Homo sapiens: one gene and its partners. The protein of the gene in region 1 purifies or fractionates together with the protein of each later gene. This does not show direct contact. Each region holds a gene or a part of one and is shown in the gene's direction. Other genes may lie near its edges.

Region 1 (3,347 bases):
CTAAAGATAACTTAGGTTTTATGACATTTTTGTTTTTTGTTTTGTTTTTGTCAGTTAAAATAGGGAAATTTTAACTGAAATATCAATGAACAGTCCCATTCCCTATCCTCACCATTGGTACAGCGGATCTTGTTTTTCTTAATGTGGTACATATTAATAAAATTTATGAGACCTAAGGTCTACTGCATTTGAAAGATTAACCGACATAAATGGTATACTTTTATAAAACTCGTTAAAATGACAAAAAGGTTTCACATTTTTGAGGAACAAATGATCTAAAATACTTAATACAAATTGGCATTACCTTGAACACATTGCATCATGATTACATGAAAGAGCTGCTGAAATGGTCATGTGTTCAGAGACTACTACATCTGTAGGCTTAATAGTAAACGTTTGGTTGGTTGGTTGGTCGGCTGGTTGGTTTGCTGCTTAGCATCAGGACACCCACCCCTTGTGTGGGAAATATACAAGTGTGTGAGTCTATGGGTTGAAATCCAAAAAGCCTGATGCTTTTTCTCATTCCTGGCAACCAAGGGATATGACCAAATTGGGTCAATTGAATGCCCTTGCCCCTAACTGTGAACAGAGAGTAGTGTTACAAACAAGGAATAAAAGATTAGAATCAATGCCAGTGTCTTTCCATTGCCCCATCGTGTCAGGGTCCAAGTGTCCAGTAGCTGTGGTCCCTTAACCAGCCTGTACCTTTGGCCGTGGCACCAGCTACCTACTTTCCCTATGTCCCCAAGTTATCTGGTAACCATTCAGGAATTTTTTTTCCTACTTAGGTATACAAAAAACAGTGTCAGTTTTTGCTTGACAGATTAAATCATCCTTCAGAGATGCAGGAAAACTATTAGCAGCCAAGGGATGCTGCCAAGGCCAGTGTCTGGGCTCTGCAGTTTTCTAACTTGTGATATTGGGTCACCCCACTAAGCTCCAGGAGAGCAGCGACTGCATCTGGCTTAATCATTATGGGATGGCCAGCTCCCAATTCCATGCCCTAGGCAAAGAGACATTCAGTGAATATTGATTTGACTTCGACTTGATTGAACAAAATGGTAACACTGAACTCTAGGTTTCCTCAGTGTCTGTTACAGATTTCTTGATCCTGACTGCTTTTAATTTTTTTTTTTTTAGCAAGAAATAACTAACGAATGATGACACTAAGCTTTAAATTCAAGTAAATAGGAGGCTTTTTTTTTTCGCATAAGCAGAAATGAGGAAATCAAGAGGAAGAGATTAGATTTCTGTTGTGATAAATCGAATCTGTTAAATGCCATGACTTTTTAATTGTCTTAATCACAAGTTAAACCGGTTGTGTTGCTGCTTAGATGGCTATATATTTGTTTAAAAGTACAGCAGTCCCTCCTACTGGACTTTGATCCTACAAAAACAACTGTTATCTAACTCACCCTCAGACTGTCACTGGAACACCTGCATGAAGAATGTTCTTTCATTTTTTAAAAACGATTTTGCATATATGATTTATTTCAGCTTTCAAAATGATTAGAAAACTTTTTATTGTTCTACTTTTGTTGCTTGTGACTATAGAAGAAGCAAGGATGTCATCGCTCAGTTTTCTGAATATAGAGAAGACTGAAATACTATTTTTCACAAAGACTGAAGAAACCATCCTTGTAAGTTCAAGCTACGAAAATAAACGGCCTAATTCCAGCCACCTCTTTGTGAAAATAGAAGATCCTAAAATACTACAAATGGTGAATGTGGCCAAGAAGATCTCATCAGATGCTACAAACTTTACCATAAATCTGGTGACTGATGAAGAAGGAGAAACAAATGTGACTATTCAACTCTGGGATTCTGAAGGTAGGCAAGAAAGACTCATTGAAGAAATCAAGAATGTGAAAGTCAAAGTGCTCAAACAAAAAGACAGTCTACTCCAGGCACCAATGCATATTGATAGAAATATCCTAATGCTTATTTTACCACTAATACTATTGAATAAGTGTGCATTTGGTTGTAAGATTGAATTACAGCTGTTTCAAACAGTATGGAAGAGACCTTTGCCAGTAATTCTTGGGGCAGTTACACAGTTTTTTCTGATGCCATTTTGCGGGTTTCTTTTGTCTCAGATTGTGGCATTGCCTGAGGCGCAAGCTTTTGGAGTTGTAATGACCTGCACGTGCCCAGGAGGGGGTGGGGGCTATCTCTTTGCTCTGCTTCTAGATGGAGATTTCACATTGGCCATTTTGATGACTTGCACATCAACATTATTGGCTCTGATCATGATGCCTGTCAATTCTTATATATACAGTAGGATATTAGGGTTGTCAGGTACATTCCATATTCCTGTTTCTAAAATTGTGTCAACACTCCTTTTCATACTTGTGCCAGTATCAATTGGAATAGTCATCAAGCATAGAATACCTGAAAAAGCAAGCTTCTTAGAGAGAATAATTAGACCTCTGAGTTTTATTTTAATGTTCGTAGGAATTTATTTGACTTTCACAGTGGGATTAGTGTTCTTAAAAACAGATAATCTAGAGGTGATTCTGTTGGGTCTCTTAGTTCCTGCTTTGGGTTTGCTGTTTGGGTACTCCTTTGCTAAAGTTTGTACGCTGCCTCTTCCTGTTTGTAAAACTGTTGCTATTGAAAGTGGGATGTTAAATAGTTTCTTAGCTCTTGCCGTTATTCAGCTGTCTTTTCCACAGTCCAAGGCCAATTTAGCTTCTGTGGCTCCTTTTACAGTAGCCATGTGTTCTGGATGTGAAATGTTACTGATCATTCTAGTTTACAAGGCTAAGAAAAGATGTATCTTTTTCTTACAAGATAAAAGGAAAAGAAATTTCCTAATCTAACAATTAAAGCATTACTGAATTCCTACTCTGGGTAGGGCACTGTGGGAGAGTAAAAGAATAACTATAATGATACCTGCTCTTAAGCCACTTATAATGTAATTAAAAATCTGACATTGGGGGGTAGAGAATACATATATATATATACACACACACACACACACACACACACACATTCGTATATGCTAAGTACTCAATGAGTGGTGGAGATGATAATACAGAAGTTCAGAGGAAGGAGACAACTTTGCAACTGTGTTGGTTTGAGAATGTTTTATAGGCTATGATGTCAATATGATACTTTCAGTGGTCTCCTAAATGAGACAGAGCAATAGAAAACTTATTTAGTGATTATGATATATCCTAAGTATTAAAAGAAGGAACACCCAGATAGCAGACATTTGACAAATTCTCACTCGGTGAATGAATTTGTAAATTTCATTAGCACATCAAAATAAGTATGTTTTAAAGTAAATGTGGCATCTCTGCCCTCAGAGCTAAGCTTTCTCCTGTCTTCCATGTTAACCCACC
Region 2 (3,500 bases), on another chromosome or scaffold:
CCACTCTGACTAACATGGGATAGCCTCTCCACATCACCCTGTCCCGTTAACTCTCAATCAGCTCGGGTTACCATAACAAAAATGCAGCCAGAAACAACCGAAATTTATTTCTTACAGTTCTGGAGGCTGGGAAATCCAAGATCAAACTGCCCATGAGGTAGGTTTTATTCTGAGCCTCTTCCCTGGGCTTGTAGATGACGAGAACTGTCCCAGTGTGTGTTCACATGATGTCTTCTTTGTGCTCTGAGGGAGAGAAGGAGTCACAGAGAGAGAGAGAGAGCTCTTGTGTCTCTCATGAGGGCACTAATCCCATTTAAGGCTCTACCGTCATAACCTAATTACCATCTCCAAATAAATCTCCAAATACAATCACACTGGGAAGTAGGGTTTCAGCATATGAAATTAGGGGTATGCAGTTCAATCCATAGCACCCTTTTATTTTTTTCCACAGTATTTATCATCTCCTGACATACTATACAGTTAGGTGTTACTTAACAGTGTTTATTCAACAGTGGACCACATATGTGACAGTGGTCCTGTAAGTTTATAATGGAGTTGACAAAATTCCTACGGCCTTGTGACATCATAGTTGTCATAATGTCGTAGTGCAATGCGTTACTTACATGTTTGTGGTGGTGATGGCATAAACATACTCTACTCCCAGTCACATAAAAGTATAGCACATATAATTATGTACAGTACATAATATTTGATAATTAAATGACTGCATTACTGATTTATGTACTACTATGGTTTTTATTGTTATTTTAGAATGTACCACTTTTTTTTTAAGTTAGCTCTAGAAGCAAGGTCCTTCAAGAGGTATTCCTCTTCAAGGCATTATCATCACAGGAGTTGACAGCTCCATGCGTGCTACTGCCCCTGAAAGACCTTCCAGTGCGATAAGATGTAGAAGTGGAAGACAGTGATATTGATGGTCCTGTGGAGTCCTAAGCTAATGTGTATATGTGTCTTAGTTTTTAACAAAAAGTTTAAAAAGTTAAACAACTTTAAAAAGAAATTTTAAATAGAAAAAACTTATAAGAATATAAAGAAAGAAAATATTTTGGTACAACTATACAAAGTGTGTTTTAAGCTAATGGTTATTACAAAAGAGTCAAAATTTTTTTAATTAAAAAGTTTATAAAGTAAAATTACAGTAAACTAACGTTAATTTATTATTGAAAGAAAAATACTTTTATAAATGTATTAATAATGGCTAAGTGTACCATGTTTATAAAGTTTACAGTACTATACAGTAACGTCCCAGGCCTTCACATTCACTTATTACTCACTTACTAACTCATCCACTGCAACTTCCAGTCCTGCGAGTTTCATTCATGATAAATGCCCTATACAAAGTGCCCTGTATTTATGTATAGGGTTATAAAATGTATAACCCTATAGAAAGGTATCATTTTTCATCTTTTATAGTGTATTTTTCTGTGTTTAGATACACAAATACTTCAGTACAGTAACATATGCTACACAGGTTTGTAACCTAGAAACAGTAGGCTGTGCCAACTACATTTGTGACAGTGTGCTCTATGATGTTTGTACAAGAATTAAATTGCCTGTGTTTCCCAGCATGTATCCCTGTCATTAAGGGACACATGACTAGACTTATTGATTTATTGTCTGTCCCGTCCCACTAGGATGCACAATTCTAAGAGTGTGGTGACTTTGTTTATCCACTGGCCCCTTGTTCCTAGTATGGCATCTGGCTAATGGTAGATAACTAATCAGTGTGACTATATTCACTTACTGCCATTATGTTTGTAATAATAAGCTAACAGCAGTTATCTTTGTTCTAACTCTGCATCATTTAAGTCAACTTGTATGTTCAAGAAGAAGAAGAATGGCATGAAAATTGTTTTTTAGATTTTCACGGTAACATTTTATTTTCTATTATAGGTAATGAATATTCGAACAGTACTGAACAAACTGGAAAAACCACAAGGCCTTTATCCTAACTATCTGAATCCCAGTAGTGGACAGTGGGGTCAACGTAAGTCAGAAGATTTGCATTATTATAGCTCTTTTTGGTACTGTACTCGTGGAGAGAGAGGAAGCACAAAAGCAGCACAGATTTTGTTGAGAAATGTTTAGAAAAGGAGAAAAGGGCATGGCTCCTTTAATAAACAGGCTTCTGTCATCAGATTGTGTTATTAGGACACTGGATTGTGTATTTTTCATATATAACTCCAAGTGTGATGACATATAAGCACATTTACAGCTATTAATCAGAAAGGGAAGATCTGGCCAGAGTAGTGTGGGGATGTTAATCTGTAACAAGCTGGTCATGTGGATAGAAAGGAAATTCATTCCTTTGTACTAATGACTATGAGGGTTTTATAGAGAGTAGGTAGACCATTCTGCTTCCTAACATTCTGTTTCTGCATGGCTATATAATGAGAGAGGAGCCTGAATTTTTAAGAGTTGGGAAATTGGAAGAGCAAACAGCCTGTTTTTCTCTTCTTAATTTTAAGCTGCCAGATATAAAGGTTTCTTGCCAGTAGAATTACCTTTAGGATGGGAGAAAGTATTGCACAAGAACTTTTGATCCTAGAAGCCTGCACTTAAGACTCTTCAGACGATTTTGAGCAGGGGCATAAAGATTCAGAGTAGTTGAAAGAAATGTTCTCAAGCTGATTTGGAAAAACAGTAGTAGATTAAATAGCTGAAAACAAGTGAAGAATATTGAGATACCCAACTGTAGCAAGAGTACACTGCCTTAAGATTTTACTCTAATTTGGGTTTTTTCTTTATATTTTAATATCATGTTCTTAGATACCTCATTATTACTTTAGAAGTACTTTTCTTAAAGAATAGTTTAATAGGAAAGTATATGCCAAAATCCATATGCTAAAATATGTCTGTAGCTCTGGAAGGCCTAGCTGTTGAAACCTTAGGACTATAATCAAGGTTACCACTTACCTAAGTGTGGTCAACAGATCACTGGAAGTCCTTGAGACCTCTGAGGAGGCCCACAAGGTCAAAAATATTTTTATTATAATACTAGTATAATGATATATAATAACAAGACATATAATACATGTCTTAGTCATATTTACTAAGCCAGTACACAGTATCTTGCACTTAGTGGATGTTTACTTACTTAAATTTTGTGAATACATATGTGCTCTGTATCTCATCTCTCTTTCTGCCTCTGCTTTTAATAGTGGTACTTTGAAAGACTTTCTGCCTTTTCTAATGTGTTGATATTTACACCTACAGTGTTAGGTGATACTGCTGAAGCCTCACTGAGAACAAAGGCGAACAAACACCAAATAGTACTAATATTCATATTTTTTCTTTTTTTTTTCTTTTTTGTGGGACAGGGTCCCACTGTGTCACCCAGGCTGGAGTACAGTGTCATAATCTCAGCTCATTGCAACCTCTGCCTCCTGGGCTCAAGCTGGGCTCAAGCTATCTTCCCACCTCGGCCCCCCGCCCCGAGTAGCTGGGACTACAGGTGCACGATGCCATGCTCAGCCAAT
Region 3 (3,500 bases), on another chromosome or scaffold:
GAGTAGGCAAGAAGAAAGCCTGCATTTTAGAAAGCTCTTGCATTTGCATGGCTGTTTTTAAATGCTATTTCCGAGACGTTAAGAAATGTATTCTTCTGATCTTATGGTCAAAAAGGAACCAAACAAAACAGTTGCATGCTAGAAGCCAAGGGGATGTTCTTCAAGAATAATAAATGCGTAGCTATAATGGAAAAGCCTGTTAAAGTGAACATCCCTTCCTTTTAGCCACCCAGTAAAGAGATTTACTTCTTTGCCTCCCACTTAAGCACTCTTGATTTGTAAGTGAACCTAAATATTGACCTTACATAGAAAGATGTGCTAAAGTGCCAGTTGCCAATAATTATGCAGATGCGGGAGTAGAATAGAATGGGAATGGAAACTCTCAGAAGGAACATAGTGATCAAAAGCACCAACTTGAGTCTGCTGTCTGTGTTAGAGTCCCAGCTCTGCTCCTGATATCTGTGTGATCATGGCCAACTATTTAACCACTGTAAATTCTAGGTTTCTTATGCAGAAAGGGGCTGATAACAGTATGTTAGTCATAGTGTTCTGAGAGATAAATGAGCTTCATACACATTAAAGGACTTTGAACTGTGCATATACCCCTTAGCATAAATGTTACATCAGGGGAAGGTTTCGTGTGGCTAGTGAAATCACTCTAAATATTGCAGTCTTAACTTTCTGGCTTTTTTTCTGTCTTGCTTAAAATACTAGAGAAAGGAATGTTGAATTGGGGATTTAGAGAGAAAAAAAGATGTGTTTGAAGATTTTTAAAAGGTGGTCTAGGGTACGAAACTGGTGCAGTTTCTGCTGATAATGAAGCTTTCTTATGAGCGTCACCTCTCGATCATTCTTAGGCTACCAATTATGAGCCTAAGAGATCTTAATGCTCTTGTTTTTCCTGTTATTACTGCACAGTAATGCTTATTTGCACATCCATTCGCAGGTGAACAAGGAAAATTAAGAGTGAATGTCCAGTCTAGTCATTTGACTCCTGGTAATATTTCTAGTGACAGCAAGATTCAGTGAACTTTGGAAGTTAGTATTTACATGAAGGGTTATTTGTGCATTGCATTTATCTAGAGTGTTTTTCTTAAATTTGGGGGTTTTACAGACCAATAAAATATCCAGAAATATTCCAGAAGACAGCAGAGTTTTAGTTTGCTAAGAGGAAAAGAAAAATATCTTCCACCTACCAACAGTATTATTTTTAAAAGGTGTGTGTGCGATTATGTATACATGTTTGTACTGCAAAATGTGTACTTCAAATTATGAAAGGTACTTTTAAATCAAATAAGTTTAGCTGTATTTAAAAATTACATTTTCTGATTTTTGGTTTGTTTTCTTCAATTCATCATAGACTGGTGAAAGCTTTCCTGGGTGAGGAGTGATCTTTGTACTAATGTTTGAGAGTATACATTTAGACCATCATGTTCTCACTTGACTTTATATTATTTAGTATTTTTAGTCAACAATGCTATTCTTAAGAATAATCAAGTTTTTAGATGTACCTAAATAAATAAATCTGTGCAGTAATCATGTGCACTGTTTTGTGAACATAAATCTTTTAAGTACTCAAGATTTATAATTAGGTTAAATTGGGATAAATATTTTGATAAGTGACCATGCTAATGCATGTTTTCCAGAAACTTGAGAGGAACCTTGTTATGTAGTGAATGAAGAAATTAATTTTTTGGAAATGGAGTTGATAGAGGAATAAACTACAGAATGCAAGCATTCTTATTTCCTGCAAAAATATGGCTTCCCTTTTATTTTCCAGCCAATCGACTTTGAAACAAATAGGATGTTTGTCCTTACTGTTGCTGCAGAAAATCAAGTGCCATTAGCCAAGGGAATTCAGCACCCCCCTCAGTCAACTGCAACCGTGTCTGTTACAGTTATTGACGTAAATGAAAACCCTTATTTTGCCCCCAATCCTAAGATCATTCGCCAAGAAGAAGGGCTTCATGCCGGTACCATGTTGACAACATTCACTGCTCAGGACCCAGATCGATATATGCAGCAAAATATTAGGTATGAAATGCTGTTTGTAGTGTTTTTGTAGCTTACTTATGTTCTATGCTGTGCATAAAATTTATCTAATTCACTATTTGAGTAGAAATTTTCATTGCAATCAAAACTACTTATTAAAAGATAATTTAAAATTCTTTGAATTTTCTTCTCAGTAAGTCAATGACTATATTAGATATAAATAGATATCTGTATCCATATTAAAATGGATTTACTATTTGAAGAAAAAGCTGTTCTTGTTTCTCTGTATCTGCCATTTTTACTTAAAAAATACTTTAAAATTATTTAGCCTGTGCCTTTATGCCAAACATCACAAAAAGGTTCCGCAGGGAACTTTCAGAGGCTTATAACATTTATCTCTCCTCCATGCATCATGAAGGAAAGAAAGCTTATGCCAAAACCAGGATCTAAGAGTTAATTATTTTCATTCCTTACCTGTACAGTAGTTATTGGACTTATGAAACCTATCTGTAAAGATTTCCAAACTCAGCAAAATGTAATTTATCCTTTCTGATGAGGGAGTGGATGGTTGCCAGAGCACACCCCATGCGACTGTTCTCCAAAGCTGGTGATGATCATTTTTAAAATGAACTTATATTTCATTAAACTTCTTACAGAACTGCTGCTAAAAGATAACTTTCTATTGTTATCTTTTATTAAATGTTAAATGTTCTCCATTTCTCTATTCACTGAAATCAAGATAACTATTAATAAATAGCCAGTTAATAGATGTATTGAAATCCTACAACTTGTACCTTTCCAAACATAGCATACCTTTTCCAATCCAACTGGTTATCTAATCTTTAAAAGTTAATCCCCACTCCAAATTTTAAAAAGGAATTTAAGCTGATAAATCTGCCAATTCAGACTCAAGACTGTAGGACTTTCTTTGCAAAGGTATAGATCTGAGGCTTGGCCCAGTGTGAAAGATTCAAGTAGGAATGGGATTATGGTGGTCTCTCCAGTGTGGCTTCATGTTGGCCATGATAAAGTGTTAAAATGTTTTAGGAGTGTTCTGTGATGCAGTATTCAATTTCTATTATAATTTCTCTTAACTCCTGTACATTGAGACTACTGCTTATCTAGAAACTATATTCAAGCTATTTTACCTGAACCATTGATATCTGTTGAAGTGGACAAGAACCTAAAATGATAACTTTCCAATCTGCTTTAGCCCACATTAGGGAGACTGTGCACCTAGTCTTGTCCCTCAGACACCTGTAGAATGTTTCCTACATGCCTGACCAAACACAACCTTTATGTGCCTCCCAATACCACTGTCACAAAAATACTTTTTCCTGTTAAAGCTGTATGTCCAGCCATCATCTACAGAAATGCAAGTTAATGAGCCAGTTGCATTTGGAACTAAACCTGTAAAATATGTTTTTTTAAAGTTTCATAAAAAGAAATTAAACTTCACTTTCATTTTGTAGATACACTAAATTATCTGATCCTGCCAATTGGCTAAA
Region 4 (3,500 bases), on another chromosome or scaffold:
GGTTATCGTAATGTATCTGCAACTTAATATTCTGCATGTGTACTTGTCTGGGGTGATTTTTATTGATTTCATGTCATCAGTTCATGAAATAGAACATGAAATCAATAATTAATATTGATGACATGAAGTCAATAATAATCAGTTGTTACTCAGATACCCTCAGGTTTTTTCACCTCTCCCCAGTCACTGCCGTGCAGGAATTTAAAGGAAATGAGAAAGGCGGCAGCCAAGGAGCTCATCCTTGTGAGAAGAATTTCTATATTTTATTATTAAAAATCCTCAGGTGATTTGCAGGCACATTAAAGTTTGAGAAGATCAAGTGAAATAATTAAGATTTAGTTATTGAAACTGATATAACAATGAGCTAGAGATTGTTTATCTGCTAAAATTGCTTTTCAGAGAAAACTTCCCATATCCAGTAAATGATTTACTATTTCCACTACCGCTTGCTTAGACTTGATCCCAATTATATTTGCTATCTTGTGTCCCCCGCTTTCCTGGGAAGACTGTGAGGACAGGAGCTTGTCCCTGTTCATATCCCCAGCACAGTGCCTGGCACACATTATGTGCTTTGTGAATGGTTTGGAAATGAATAAATCCTAGCTTTCGATATGAGAAAAGTAGTTTAATATGTTTTGCATTATCCAGCATAAGGGATAATTACCCAGGTATCAAGAGCCTTTTTCTTTAATACTATTGCCCTTTTCATCAGCAGCAAGCAGAGTAAAATGAAAGAATGTTAAGCTTAAAACCATTAATTGGTCAACTTGTTAGCAATTCTAACAAGAAGTTAAGTTAGGAGATATCATAGGCCACAGAAAGAACTCTTACAAGTGATTTCCGAATACAAGTACCTGCCACCCCAACTGTCAGGGATAATTAAGAGTGGATTGGGATGTCTTTTAGTTGTTTTAGGTAAAATTTTGCTTTCCAATCCCTGTTGACAGCTCTATATACATCCTTGTGCATATAAATCAGATTTGGTGACACTAATCTAGTTGAAAGAAAAGACTTCCAACCCCATATACTTACTTTCTCTCTCCAGGAAGCTATTGGTGTGCATTTGTATTCTTGTGTCATGTTTTGGTGCCCTAGATAGCAACTAGAACATTTACAGAGAAGTCCCAGGCTGTTGAACTGCACGTGAGAGGAGGTGAGCAGGGCACTGGATTTGGAAACTAATCAAGCTGCCGCTTAGCCGTTCTTGATTGCACTTGAGGAATTGTGAGTTGTCACACAGTATACTCATGTAAGTGATAAATTCCCATTAAAGTGAAATAAGTGTTCTTTTTTTAAAAAAAAATTCCCTCCTGTAGTTATTATTCAGTCAAAATTGAAGCTCCTGCATATGCTAGGCATTGGCTGAGGGTTGAAAAGCTTGTTCCTGTGCCTTCAGAGGGAGCGCAGTATGATGAAGGCTAGGGGAGCAGGTCCACTTCCAGTGCCACGCTTATACGCCAAGTGCAGTGGGCGTAGAGAAGCAGCATTCAGAATATGTGAAATCCAGTATTTCACCTCCTAGATGAGGGGATGCGGAGTTGAGTTTTGAAGGATAAGCAGAATTTAACTGAGTGAAATAGAAAGCTCATTGTCTACGCCATAGTTGCTTTGGTTTGTATGGCTAAGCAGTAGTGTTCAGGTATTTTGCTCTCCCAAAAATATTTGGATCACATGATACAAACAGTGAAGATTCTGTCTGCTCTGGGTTAATTTTGGAGGCCAGGAAAAAAATGTCCATGATTCATGATACGAAGAATGAGCTTGTGCTGCTGAAAATGAAAAAGTAAGCTAGCATTTCGTCATCCTGCACTACTTGCTGCTTTGAAGGAATATAGATTCCTAGGTCATAGAATATATACATAGTCAAAAACACTCCTAAAGAATCAATTATTTGTGAACCAGATAGAGTATACAAGTCTTTGGAGATCAAGAGAGTGAAATGAGAAGCCATAACTGCCCTCTGCCTAGCTAGGCTGAGTTCCGAGAGGTGGTTGGAAGACAGAAAGTGGCGTCTGTCCCTGGGTAAGGGCTGTGGCGTAACTGGGTGTGGGGCTTTTCTCTAATCATCTGGAGAGGAGAGCCCCTGACAAGCTGGCCCCCAAACAAGGTGGCTATGGATTCTTCTTTTTATAAAAGTTTAAAGTGTCTTAAATAACCTTTTGTGCCATTGAATAGAAAGAAAGGTAGTGGAACTCCAGAATACAAGGGATTGGCCAGAATAAATGGTTGGTATAGAGTAGATGTCAATCTTTTTATTTAAAAATTTTTTAAGTACATTAATACAGTACATTAACATAGCTGTTTTAATACAAGGGTGCATTAAAATAATGCCATAAAAGCACCAGCAGCCAGAACCACAGATCTCATGGTCCTTGGATGCACTTCCTGTGGCTGCTGTAACAATTGCCACAAACTGGGTGGCTCAGAACACAGAGCTTTATCCTCACAGTTCTGAAAGCCAGAAGACCAGAATCAAGGTATCAACAAGGCGATGCTCTCATCCAGCATCTGATGGCCCTTGGCATTCCTTGGCTTATGACTATGTCACTCCAGTCTCTACATCCATCTTCACATGGTGGCCTTCTTCTCTGTGTCCTTACGTCTTCTCTTTTTCTGTGTTTTGTAAGGACATTTGTCATTGGATTTAAGGTACACTCTAAATCCAGGATGATTTCATCTTGAGACCCTTAGTTACATCTACAAAGACCCTATTTCCAAATAAAGTCACAGTCACAGGTTCCAGGGATTAGGACTTACATCTTTTGGGGTCACTATTCAACCCACTACAGACCCCTACCAAGTATAATGTAATTTGGAAAGACATGTGCCTCCATGGGATTAAACAGAAAGACGTCGTCATCTGAAATGTACCTTCTCTCTTTGTGGAGAAAGTCAGTTTTGTTTTGCTTTGCTTTCACTCTGATGTTATGGAAGCGGCAGCATCTGGGGCTCTGCCTTGGATATGTGCAGTTCTGGAGAGTATGCTGTTGCACAGTCTGATGAGGGTGATTCTCCTCGCTGTTGATACCAAAGCAGTATTTGTCGAGTCTCATGACATGGCAGGCACTGCTCTAAGCATTCCACATGTCTTAATCTCATTCAGTCCTCAATACAGCTCTGCAAAGTAGATCTCATTACCTCCTATTTACTAGATGAGGAAACTGAGGCACAAAAAGGTTAAGTAACATGCCCAAGACCAACCAGCTTCAATGTGATGGAGCCAGTGTTTAAGGCATGTCTCTGTCTTCTCAGTGACTTCAAGTGCTACAAGGGGTGGAGGTGCCAAGTTTACAGAGGATGGACCCACTGCTCGGTTTTTCTGTTCTGACTTTTCTCTCTTGGCACTTCTTTGTGTAAGAGCAGCAGGAGAGCCTTTTAACCAGATCTGCACATCACACTTCCCTGGGATACATTTTAGAAACATGCCTTGCCCAGGGTCTGCCCCTGGAGATTTGAGCTCAGTCTATGGTAGGTAAGGTACATGTGGCTGTATTTGTGTC
Region 5 (4,044 bases), on another chromosome or scaffold:
AAAGTATAAAGGAGAAAGTAACAAACCATTAGTTACCTCCCCAGAGATAACCATTGATGACATTTCCTCCCCAACATTTTTCCCCCTATGGATACACATACATTTTTTCAAGATCTTGTTTCCTTTGATATGTCATTTTAGTGGCTTGAACTTATTTCTGGAACAATATATGGGTAAAGTCTATGCATATATGTATCTATGTATATATCTATCTATGGAAAACAAGTAGATATAGACAGTAAAATAAAGACAGAGACAAGACAGCGGTTGGAGAGATGAAAGGAGAGAAAGTCATAGACAAGGAGAGACATATGGGGAGAGGAAGACACAGAGAGAGCTGTGGGCACATAAGGGCAGAAAGATAAACACAGAGAGCCATGGAGAGATGAAAGTATTGGGCTGGGGCCAGGCATGGTGGCTCAACGCCTGTAATCCCAGCACTTTGGGAGGCCGAGGAGGGCCGATTGCTTGAGCTCAGAAGTTGGAGACCAACCTGGCAACATGACGAAACCCCATCTCTACAAAAATACAAAAATTAGCCAGGCGTGGTGGTGGGCACCTGTAGTCCCAGCTACTTGGCAGGCTGAGGCATGAGAATTGGTTGAACCCTGGAGGTGGAGATTGCAGTGAGCTGAGATCCGGCCACTGTCCTCCAGCCTGGAGGACACAGCGAGACACTGTCAGAAAAAAAAAAACACAAAGAGACAAGGAGAGGATGGAAAGGAGCATTTATGGAGCTCCTACTGAATGTCATTCTAAACCTCCAAGGTCACTTTGAGGGAGGCTGTCAGTAGTAACCCCTTTACGCCGCTGAGAGCCTGAGCCTTAGAATGGCCAACTGAGCTGTCCATGGTCACATCACCTAGATTGAACCCATCTCCCTGGCGCGGGCCGGGCCCACTGCGGGTGATCCATTAACTATTTATCTAATGAACAAACTAAAGTCCATCTCCTCCCCCAGGAAGAGAGATGAGGACCAGACCCCCATTCCACTCCACTGAGTCAATTTTTCTTGCCTGTTTTCCTGTCTACTAAGGTAACAGTAAGGTCGGTTGCCCCAGCAACTGCCCTCCGACTGCCATGGCAACCGCCAGCTCTCCACCTTGCCCTTTGGGCATCTCCATGGCGACGGGAGGTCTGGTGGGGCTGCCAGCTCCCCAGGCTGCGCCTGCGTCGGTCGGGTGGGTGGGGTGGGGGCGGGGGGGGGGGGGCCTGGTTCCGGGCGTGCGCAGCCGCAGAGCGCCGCAGCCTCGCCAGCTCGCCCCGGCACTGCGCACTTGCCAGCCAGTCCGCCCGTCCGGAGCCCGGCTCGCTGGGGCAGCATGGCGGGGTCGCCGCTGCTCTGGGGGCCGCGGGCCGGGGGCGTCGGCCTTTTGGTGCTGCTGCTGCTCGGCCTGTTTCGGCCGCCCCCCGCGCTCTGCGCGCGGCCGGTAAAGGTGCGACCCCAGTCCGGCGAGGGGTGGGGGTTGGGGGAGGATGCCACCGGCGAGGGTTGGGGTTGGGGCTGCGCCGCCTCACCCCCGCCCGAGCCGGCTCCCGGGACGTGCGGAGAGATCGACGAGGGTGGCCCGGGCTCCGGCCGCCGGTCCGCGCCCAGGCCACGCCGGCACACCTGAGACCTGACTTGGTCTCTGCCTGTGCGGGTGGCGTTGTCCGGGGCGCCGCCGGTAACCGTGCCCTGCCCACCTCTCCGTGCCCGGTGCCTGTGACGCTGTCCACGGCACTAAGGCGCTTTAAGAAAGGGCGCGCGCGCATCAGTGTGTGTGCGTGTGATGTGAGGAGAGCGGTGTGGAGGTGTCGTGTCCTTGAAAGTGTGTGTTCTTTGGTTTGAGCGCTTCCAAGTGTCCTAGAAAGGTGCCGTGGTGCGTCTGGGTGTGTAGTGTGTGTGATACCGGGATACTTCTGTGCGCGATTCTTTTGTGCGTCCGATTGTTTTCTCAGTGACACCGTGTGGATATTTGTGAATCCTTATTATGTGTGTTGGCTTGGCCTATGGGCGTGTCTCTCTCTCTCTCTCTCTGTCTCTCTCTCTCTGTGTGTGTGTGTGTGTGTGTGTGTGTGTGTGTGTGTGTGTGATTTCGTTTGTGTTTGAGAGGGAATGGTCTTCGCATCTCCGTGTGCACATTCCATAGTGGTTCTGTTGGACCAAGTGCCTGGGATTTCGTTTGCGTGTTCCTGAGACTGTTTCTCTCCGTTTCTTTGTGGAGCTGTGTCATCCTGAGGAGAGGAGCCATGATGTCTCTCTGCTGCATTGTGTCTTTAAGGATGGTGCATGTCCTTGCACCTGGGTGGCTTGGCGATTGTAACTGCAGGAGCAGCTGCGGATGTGAACGTGTGCAGGTCCTTGCATGTGGCTGTGGCAGTGTTGGGCTGTATATGTGACATCTCCAGGCCTGTCAGTCCTCATGAGTGTGTGTGAGGCTGTGATTGCTGGTGAGTGTGATACCCCGGGGTGACTGAGGAGTGGTGGGCGCCAGCAAGGGCACTTGGAGAGGCATCCTCCTCTAGCTCTTCAATACTGTCTGCATCAAAGATGGGAATTAAAAAAAACTGTTACCTTATATCCGTGTAACAATGTGTTTAATATATATGTACAATGTAAAGAATGATGACAAAATAACTCTCTCGTGTAGCAGTCACTCAGCTTAATAAATAGAGCCTGACCAAGAGTTAGAAGCCCCTGCGTGCCCCTCGCCATGGCAGCCCCTGTCCCCACACAGTCCTTATTCTGTATTTTCTGTCCATTGATCCCTTACTTTTGTTTGTAGCTTATCACATATGTGTAGCTCTCAAAAAAAATCCATTGTTTAGTTTTTCCTGCTTTTGAACATCATTGAAACGGAATCATACTGGGTGACTGGTTCCTCGTAGTCACTAGGGGTCACTAGGAAGTCCTCAGGGTGTCTAGTAGTCTCAGGCAGTCTGCAGTGAAATTCTGGAACTTGACGTTTTTTTTTCCCTTGGCTCTATTCTGGTCACGAGATTCATCCAAGTTGATGCATGTGGCTGTAATTCATTTATTTTTATTGCTGCATAATATTACATCCTATGAGGACATCATGATTTATATATGTATTCTCAATTTGTCAGTGGACATTGGACTGTTTCCAGGCTTTTCTTTCTCCCCCGCCCTTTTATGCTATTACGAACAGTGCTGCTGTCATCTTTCACGAACTTGTGACCAGTAGCGTATGTGCCAAAGCTGCTCTGGGGAGTGACATCCCAGGAGTGGGTCATAGGATATGTGCATCTTTTTAGATATTGTCAAACCGCTCTGCAAAATTACTTTGCCAGTTTAATTCTCACCAGCATAGTATGAGAGTTCCCATTTTTCTGCATTCATATCAACACTTCATATTATCAGACTTTTTGATTTGGGTCAATCTTTTGGTTATATTATGCATAGTATCTCCCTGGCATTTTAATTTGCTTTCCCCTGATTACTAATGAGGTTTTTAATTTTATTTTATGTTTGTTAGAGACAGGGTCTTCCTCTGTCATGCACGCTGGAGTGCAGTGGTGCGATCTGGGCTCACTGCAACCTTGAGCTTCTGGACTCAGGTGATCCTCCCACCTCATCTTCCCAAGTAGCTGGGACTATGGGCTTGTGCCCCGCTCATTTTTTTTGGTTTTATTTTTTGTAGAGACAGGGTCTCGCCATTTTGACCAGGCTGGTCTCAAACTCCTGGCCTCAAGCGATCTTCCTGCCTTGGCCTCCCAAAGTGCTGGGATTACAGGCATGAACCACTACACGTGGCCCAATTTTTCATATGTTTAGTAATCATTTTTGTGAAATAGGCGATCATGTATTTTTTCTATTTCTGTATGAGTTTGTTTTTCTCTTACTACTTTTTAGGAATTCTCTGTATCTTCTGTGTACTACTCTTTCATTGACTATTTGTGTTGCAGGCATCACTCCTTTTAAACATATTTATATGTGGCCTGTATGTTTCTTTTCCAAACCTTCACAGTCATTTTTATGATCTTTTATTCCTTGCTCAGATTATTGGTACCCTCTTTTATTTCTTTAAACTTGTGGAAATT
Region 6 (3,500 bases), about 23 Mb from region 1:
TATGAACACTATACAAGCACATATATTATGAATAGTTGTACAGCAGATGACAGGAAGAGATGGACTTAAATTACAAGGGGAGGAACCTTAAGAAGGGTTCTGTGGAGAACTCAGTTCTGAGGGCAGTCATTTTGTCAATGAAATAAGTATAGAACATAACTTTTTACAATGTTTTAAGTGTATTTCAGGCAAGAAGCAAAGGGTGGAGCAAAAGCTGGATTTCCAATACCTTTTTGCCAAAGTTAAATGCTTTCTGCTAAGCTATCAATAAAGATTGCTTTAGAAATCAGATTGTCTTTGGTAGAGGCAAGAATGTATTAAAAGATTGGTGAATTTCAGAGCAGATTTGGAAAAATTGAGCTTTTATCTTTTTTTTTTATTGTGTAGCTTTACAGAAGATATAACTTTAGTAGGTCCCAAAACTTCAAAGTAAATAAAACTGACAAAAGAGTTTTCTAGTTTTCCTCTTAAATAGTTAATAACTCATTTACTTGCTGGTATCAGTTTGGTGAAGATGTGAAATTGTTTTATGCTCATGTTTTGTCATTGAGTGAGACTAACTTGATACCTACCTTTAATTCACTTACATTTCAGTTTTTAGAGAAATTAAAAATGATGCCAATCTTTTAATATTAGGATTAAATGGAGCACAATAGGATGTTTAGTAGTTGGAATTTACTTTTTCAAATATAAGTGAGTAAACCTTTCATAATCTGACTTAATTTCATTAATAGTTAAGGCATCTTTTTACATATATTGGAGAAAACATAAGAATAATCTTTGTATCTGATATATTTTGAAGTAGAATTGTTTCGTGAAATTATTATTGCTTGTGAAAGTTTTGCTAAGAGAATACAGAACACCTATACAAAAAATGCCATGATTAATTCTCAAAATCATTGTGTGAGGTAGGTATTATTAGAAGAAACTGAAGCTTTGAGAATAGTAGTTTTGCCTAAGGTTCATGTCTGTCTACTGCTGTGCTCTTCGTGTAGAGGCCCATTATTTTTTTTTTGTCTACATTATTGTAACAGCCACCAACTAGTCTTAGCTCTAGTCTTGTCCTGATTGAATCATATCACACTTAGCAGTAGCCAGAGTGACTTATCTAAAGTACAGATCTGATAATGTAACTTTCTTGCTTAAAACCCAACAGCAGTTCCCTGTTCTTAAAATATAAATTAAACTCAGCAGAGCTTTCATGATCTGGCTAGTTTTTTTTTTTTCACTTTTAAGTTCAGGAGTACATGTGCAGGTTTGTTATATAAGTAAACTTGTGTCATGGGGGTTTGTTGTACACAATTATTACATGGGGGTTTGTTGTACATAATTATTAATCTGTTTGTTGTACAGATTATTTCATCACCTAGTGATATGTTACATCATATCTAGTGATATCTGTACATCATATCGTATATAGTACCCAGTAGTTATTTTTTCTGATCCTCTCCTTTGTCCCACCCGCCACCTTCTGACAGGCCCCAGTATGTGTTGTTCCCCTTCCTCTATGTGTCCATGTGTTCTCATCATTTAGCTCCCACTTATAAGTGAGAACATGCAGCATTTGGTTTTCTGTTCCTGCATTTGTTTGCTAAGGATAATGGCCCCCACCTCCATCCAAGTTCCTGTAAAGGACATGTTCTTGTTCTTTTTTATGACTACATAGTATTCTATGGTATATGTGTACCACGTTTTCTTTATCCAGTCTGTCATTGATGGGCATTTAGGTTAATTCCATGTCTTTGTTATTGTGAATCAGTGCTACAAGGAACATAACACATGCATGTGTCTTTATAATAGAACAATTTATATTCCTTTGGGTGTATTCCCAGTAATGGGATTGCTGGGTCAATGATATTTCTGTTTTTAGGTCTTTGAGGAGTCGCCACGTTGTCTTCCACAATGATTGAACTAATTACACTTCTCCCAACAGTGTACAAGCATTCCTTTTTCACCACAACCTCGCAAGCATTTGTTATTTTTTTGACCTTTTAATAATTAGCCATTCTGACTGGTGTGAGATGGTATCTCATTGTGGTTTTGATTTGCATTTCTCTGATTGGTGATGTTGAGCTATATTTCATATGATTGTTGGCTGTATGTATGTCTTTTTTTGAAAAGTGTTCATGTCCTTTACCCAGTTTTCAATGGGTTTTTTTCTTGTAAATGTGTTTTAAGTTCTTTATAGATTTAGATTAATTTTTTGTTTGTTTGTTTTGTTTTTTTTTTGAAACGGAGTCTTGCTCTGTCGCCCAGGCTGGAGTGCAGTGGCACAATCTTGGCTCTCTGCAAGCCCCGCCTCGCGGGTTCATGCCATTCTCCTGCCTCAGCCTCCCGAGTAGCTGGGACTACAAGCACCCACCACCATGCCCGGCTAATTTTTTTTTTTTTTTTTTTTTTATTTTTAGTAGAGACAGGGTTTCACTGTGTTAGTCCTGATGGTCTCAATCTCCTGACCTCGTGATCCACCTGCCTGGGCCTCCCAAAGTGCTGGGATTACAGGCGTGAGCCACCGCACCCAGCCTAGATTAGTTCTTAATAGATGCTGGATATTTTGCAAATTATGAATCTTTGTCAGATGCGTAGTTTGCAAAAATTTTCTCCCATTCTGTAGGTAGCCTATTCACTCTGTTGACCGTTTCCTTTGCTGGACAGAAGCTCGTCAGTTTAATTAGATTCCATTTGTCAATTTTTGCATTTGTTGCAATTGCTTTTGGCATCTTTATCCTGAGATCTTTGCCTATTTTTGTGTCTAGAATGGTATTGCCTAGCTTGTCTTCCAGGGTTTTTATAGTTTTGGGTTTTATATTTAAGTCTTCAATCCGTCTTGAGTTAATTTTTGTATATGGTGTAAGGAGGGGTCCAGTTTCAGTCCTCTGCATATGACTAGCCGGTTACCCCAGCACCATTTATTGAATAAGGAATCCTTTTCCTATGGCTCATTTTTGTCAAGTTTGTTGAAGATCAGTTAGTTGTAGATGTGCTGCCTTATTTCTGGGTTCTCTATTGTGTTCCATTGGTCTATGTGTCTGTTTTTGTACGAGTACCATGCAGTTTTGGTTACTGTAGACCTGTAGTGTAGTTTGAAGTTGGGTAGCATGATTTCTTCAGCTTTCTTCTGTTTGCTTAGGATTACCTCTGCTATTTGGGCTCTTTTTTGGTTCTATATGAATTTTAAAATAGTTTCTTCTAGTTCTGTGAAGAATGTCAATGGTCATTTAATAGGAATAGCATTGAATCTGTAAATTGGTTTGGGCAGTATGGCCATTTTAACAGTATTGATTCTTCTTACCCATAAACATAGAATGTTTTTTCATTTGTTTGTGTCATTTCTGATTTCTGTAAGCGTAGTTTTATAGTTCTCCTTCTAGAGATCTTTCACCTCCCTGGTTAGCTGTGTTCCTGGGTATTTTATTCTTTTTATGGCAGTTGTGAATGGAATTACATTCCTGATTTGGCTTCAGCTTGACTGTTGTTGGTGTATAGGAATGTTAGTGATA
Region 7 (3,024 bases), on another chromosome or scaffold:
TCAGAAATCCCTGTGGTGCATCATGAGGCAATCTGAGCTGCTGATCAGCAGAAAACCCTGCACTGTCTGAGCTTATCTTCCAGCCAAAGGCAAACAATTTACCCTTTGTTATTAGTCTGTCTGGATTTGTCTTAGATAAATGAGCCATTTTTGTTACAAGTTTTTTAAAGATATACAGTAGTTCCATTATAATTTTTGTGGACTCAAATATCAAGTCCACATGTAGGGAATCATTGACAGAGATTTCCAGTTACTGTCACCACCACACCAAGGCAGTAATTTTGCTCAGTTCTGCCTTTATAGATCCACAATTTAACCATTCAACAACCACCTGAGATCCTGAGTGGCAGGCCCTATGCTAAATGCTAGGACCACAGTAAGACCCAGTGCCTGACCCCAATTGCTGAGACTCTGAAGGAGACTATTATTAATGTGATAAGTGCTATGACCAAGCACAGAGCACATAGGAGGAGCTGTATGCATTATGGGAGCACACAGGAGGACTTCTGGGAGAAAGTGATAGCCAAGCTTAAACCTGGAGAAAAAGGGAACGCCAAACACAATATAGAGAGCAGTGTACCAGACAGTGGGGACACTGTGCTCAAAGACCTAGAGGCCAGAGGGTGAGGCACTGCAGATTGTTGAGTAGGCCGAGATAGAGCATACAAAAGCATAACAAAAGATGGGGCTAGGCAGACCAGGTAATAAACCTGCACTTTAAACCTGCACTTGATCCTGAGCACAGTAGAGAGCCACTGAAAGATTTTAAGCAAGAGAGTGCCATACAGTGTTGGAATGATTCACTCGGACAGCAATGTGGAAGATAGACCAGAAAGGGCAAGTCCAGAGGCCAACAATAATCTTAGCCTCAGAGTTCTTTTTTTAATACCCAAGAATACTATTTCATTTTACTTATATTTTTAAACTTTTCTCTATAACGCTCTCTCTGCTCCCCCACATTGTTGTCTGGATGGTAAACCTAGGACTGGTCTCTGAGTCCTGGTCACAGCCTGGCAACAGAATGTTTGAGCAAACTGGGAAGGCTGCCCCATGGATCCCTGGTTTCTTATCACCATCCTCTTAATTCTACGTTTGCCAACCAGTCTCTAGGAAGCCAGCGTGCTCTTGCGCCCCTCCCACCAGGTTTCCAGTTGCTAAGCGTGTCATGTTTGCATTTGGGTATCATCTGCATGAGTGACCATTTTAATCTCTCTTTCCTTGACTACTTGTTCTACACTAGAGTCTAGGGTGGGGGTGAGTACAGTGGTAAAGACAGGGATAGCGGGAAATTTAGTCTTCTGTTTAGGAAGCTGGATGGTAGTGTGGATTTTCTAACTCCTTGTGGTAATTAAATTCTGGAGCACAGTTTTTAGACCTTTTCTGAAATCTGTTACTGTTGAAGTCAGCTTCATATATTTCACTTTTTTTTTTTTTGAGACAGAGTCTCACACTGTTACTCAGGCTGGAGTGCACTGGTACAATCTTGACTCACTGCAACCTCCACAGCTCCCAGGTTCAAGCGATTCTCGTGCCTCAGCCTCCCAAGTAGCTGGTACTACAGGCGCGTGCCACCATGCTTGGCTAATTTTTGTATTTCTAGTAAAGATGGGGTTTTGCCATGTTGCCCAGGCTGGTCTCGAACTCCTGGCCTCAGGTAATCTGCCCGCCTCAGCCTCCCAAAGTGTTTGGATTGCAGGCATGAGCCACTGCACCCACCCTATTTCACTATTAAGTACTCTCTTCCTGTGATATTAATGACTTATTTGTTTCAAACTTTTTTGTGCCATTGAGCTTTTTAGTGATCCAGTGAAGCCTGTGGACCCCCTCTCATAGTAATGTTTTCAAAGCATAAAACTAAATATAAAGGATCGCAAAGGAAACTGATCATGTTAAAATAAAGTTGATATTTTCAAAGTTTTATGATCCAGTAACATACATATTCTGTTAACACAAAATAAGACTGCATGGTGGTTCTAAAATTACTATAATTCAAATTCATATCTTGAAATATCTAACAACTGTAATATATCTAAATGTCTCATTTCTATTGGTGACAAAGTCACAGGTACTCTGATCCTACTGTGGACTGTTTCCTATATTCGTAATTGAAGGAAATGTTATATTTCAGTTAGAAGTTGGTGAAAAGAAAGATTTAAAATTTTTCCCATCCAAGTTCACCAGACCCCTGGTTTAGAGGTTGTCTTAATTTTACTTTTGTCATTTTAAGAGTAAATTATTTTGTTTTCTTGTTCAATTCTCAATTATTTGGGCTTATTTTACTGCCTCTTGCATGCTTTTTTATGCTTGAATGGTTTTTGCAGTGTTAGAACAGTAATAATTGAAGACTTGGGTGGAAAAAAATCAGCACCTGATTGAAAATGAAAGGTTTCAACAAAAGCTCTTGATAATGTTACCTCCAGGTGTACCATCATGCCACCATTATTGGTGCTACAAATCTGTTAATTTATTTATGCTTAAGTATGTAAACTTTAATAAAACTTGGATCATCTGCATTAAAAAATAATGCTATCTTGTAAAAGTGTCTACTTAGGTAATTCACAATGGGGTGGGTTTGTTGATTCCCCATGACATTTGCAAAGCCCTTTGTAGCACTCTCACCTATCACCTTAAATGGATTCTTATAACATCCATCTAGTGGATTAAAGACTTAAATATAAAACCCAAAACTACAAAAACCCTGGAAGACAACCTTCAGAATGGGAGAAAATATTTGCAAACTATGCATCTGACAAAGGTCTAATATCTAGCATCTATAAGGAACTTAAACAAATTTACAAGAAAAAAACAACCCCATTAAAAAGTGGGCAATGGGCATGAACAGACACTTCTCAAAAGAATATATACATGCTTCCAACAAGCATATGAATAAAAGCTCAACATCACTGATCAAAATATTTGCAAACTATGCATCTGACAAAGGTCTAATATCTAGCATCTATAAGGAACTAAATTTACAAGAAAAAACAACCCCATTAAAAAGTAGGCAATGGGCCGGGCGCGGTG

Evidence for each region.
Region 2: the proteins of SLC10A5 (region 1) and MAN1A1 purify together in Homo sapiens (affinity purification with mass spectrometry; one large-scale study listed by BioGRID and IntAct). This does not show direct contact.
Region 3: the proteins of SLC10A5 (region 1) and CDH2 purify together in Homo sapiens (affinity purification with mass spectrometry; one large-scale study listed by BioGRID and IntAct). This does not show direct contact.
Region 4: the proteins of SLC10A5 (region 1) and WRNIP1 purify together in Homo sapiens (affinity purification with mass spectrometry; one large-scale study listed by BioGRID and IntAct). This does not show direct contact.
Region 5: the proteins of SLC10A5 (region 1) and PCSK1N purify together in Homo sapiens (affinity purification with mass spectrometry; one large-scale study listed by BioGRID and IntAct). This does not show direct contact.
Region 6: the proteins of SLC10A5 (region 1) and LRP12 purify together in Homo sapiens (affinity purification with mass spectrometry; one large-scale study listed by BioGRID and IntAct). This does not show direct contact.
Region 7: the proteins of SLC10A5 (region 1) and TMEM59 purify together in Homo sapiens (affinity purification with mass spectrometry; one large-scale study listed by BioGRID and IntAct). This does not show direct contact.

The regions. Positions count from the first base shown.
Region 1 is NC_000008.11:81,693,131-81,696,477, reverse strand, and holds SLC10A5 (sodium/bile acid cotransporter 5 precursor), read left to right. Parts: upstream 1-1,419; 5' UTR 1,420-1,505; coding exon 1,506-2,822; 3' UTR 2,823-2,847; downstream 2,848-3,347.
Region 2 is NC_000006.12:119,199,762-119,203,261, reverse strand, and holds part of MAN1A1 (mannosyl-oligosaccharide 1,2-alpha-mannosidase IA), read left to right. Parts: intron 1-1,914; coding exon 1,915-2,008; intron 2,009-3,500. UniProt on the Homo sapiens protein: Involved in the maturation of Asn-linked oligosaccharides. Progressively trim alpha-1,2-linked mannose residues from Man(9)GlcNAc(2) to produce Man(5)GlcNAc(2).
Region 3 is NC_000018.10:27,988,631-27,992,130, reverse strand, and holds part of CDH2 (cadherin-2 isoform 1 preproprotein), read left to right. Parts: intron 1-1,780; coding exon 1,781-2,034; intron 2,035-3,464; coding exon 3,465-3,500. UniProt on the Homo sapiens protein: Calcium-dependent cell adhesion protein; preferentially mediates homotypic cell-cell adhesion by dimerization with a CDH2 chain from another cell. Cadherins may thus contribute to the sorting of heterogeneous cell types.
Region 4 is NC_000006.12:2,771,893-2,775,392, forward strand, and holds part of WRNIP1 (ATPase WRNIP1), read left to right. Parts: intron 1-1,045; coding exon of another isoform or gene 1,046-1,106; exon of another isoform or gene 1,107-1,159; intron 1,160-3,500. UniProt on the Homo sapiens protein: Functions as a modulator of initiation or reinitiation events during DNA polymerase delta-mediated DNA synthesis. In the presence of ATP, stimulation of DNA polymerase delta-mediated DNA synthesis is decreased.
Region 5 is NC_000023.11:48,832,811-48,836,854, reverse strand, and holds the start of PCSK1N (proSAAS preproprotein), read left to right. Parts: upstream 1-1,244; 5' UTR 1,245-1,322; coding exon 1,323-1,436; intron 1,437-4,044. UniProt on the Homo sapiens protein: May function in the control of the neuroendocrine secretory pathway. Proposed be a specific endogenous inhibitor of PCSK1.
Region 6 is NC_000008.11:104,579,259-104,582,758, reverse strand, and holds part of LRP12 (low-density lipoprotein receptor-related protein 12 isoform a precursor), read left to right. Parts: intron 1-3,500. UniProt on the Homo sapiens protein: Probable receptor, which may be involved in the internalization of lipophilic molecules and/or signal transduction. May act as a tumor suppressor.
Region 7 is NC_000001.11:54,026,181-54,029,204, reverse strand, and holds the end of TMEM59 (transmembrane protein 59 isoform 2 precursor), read left to right. Parts: 3' UTR 1-2,524; downstream 2,525-3,024.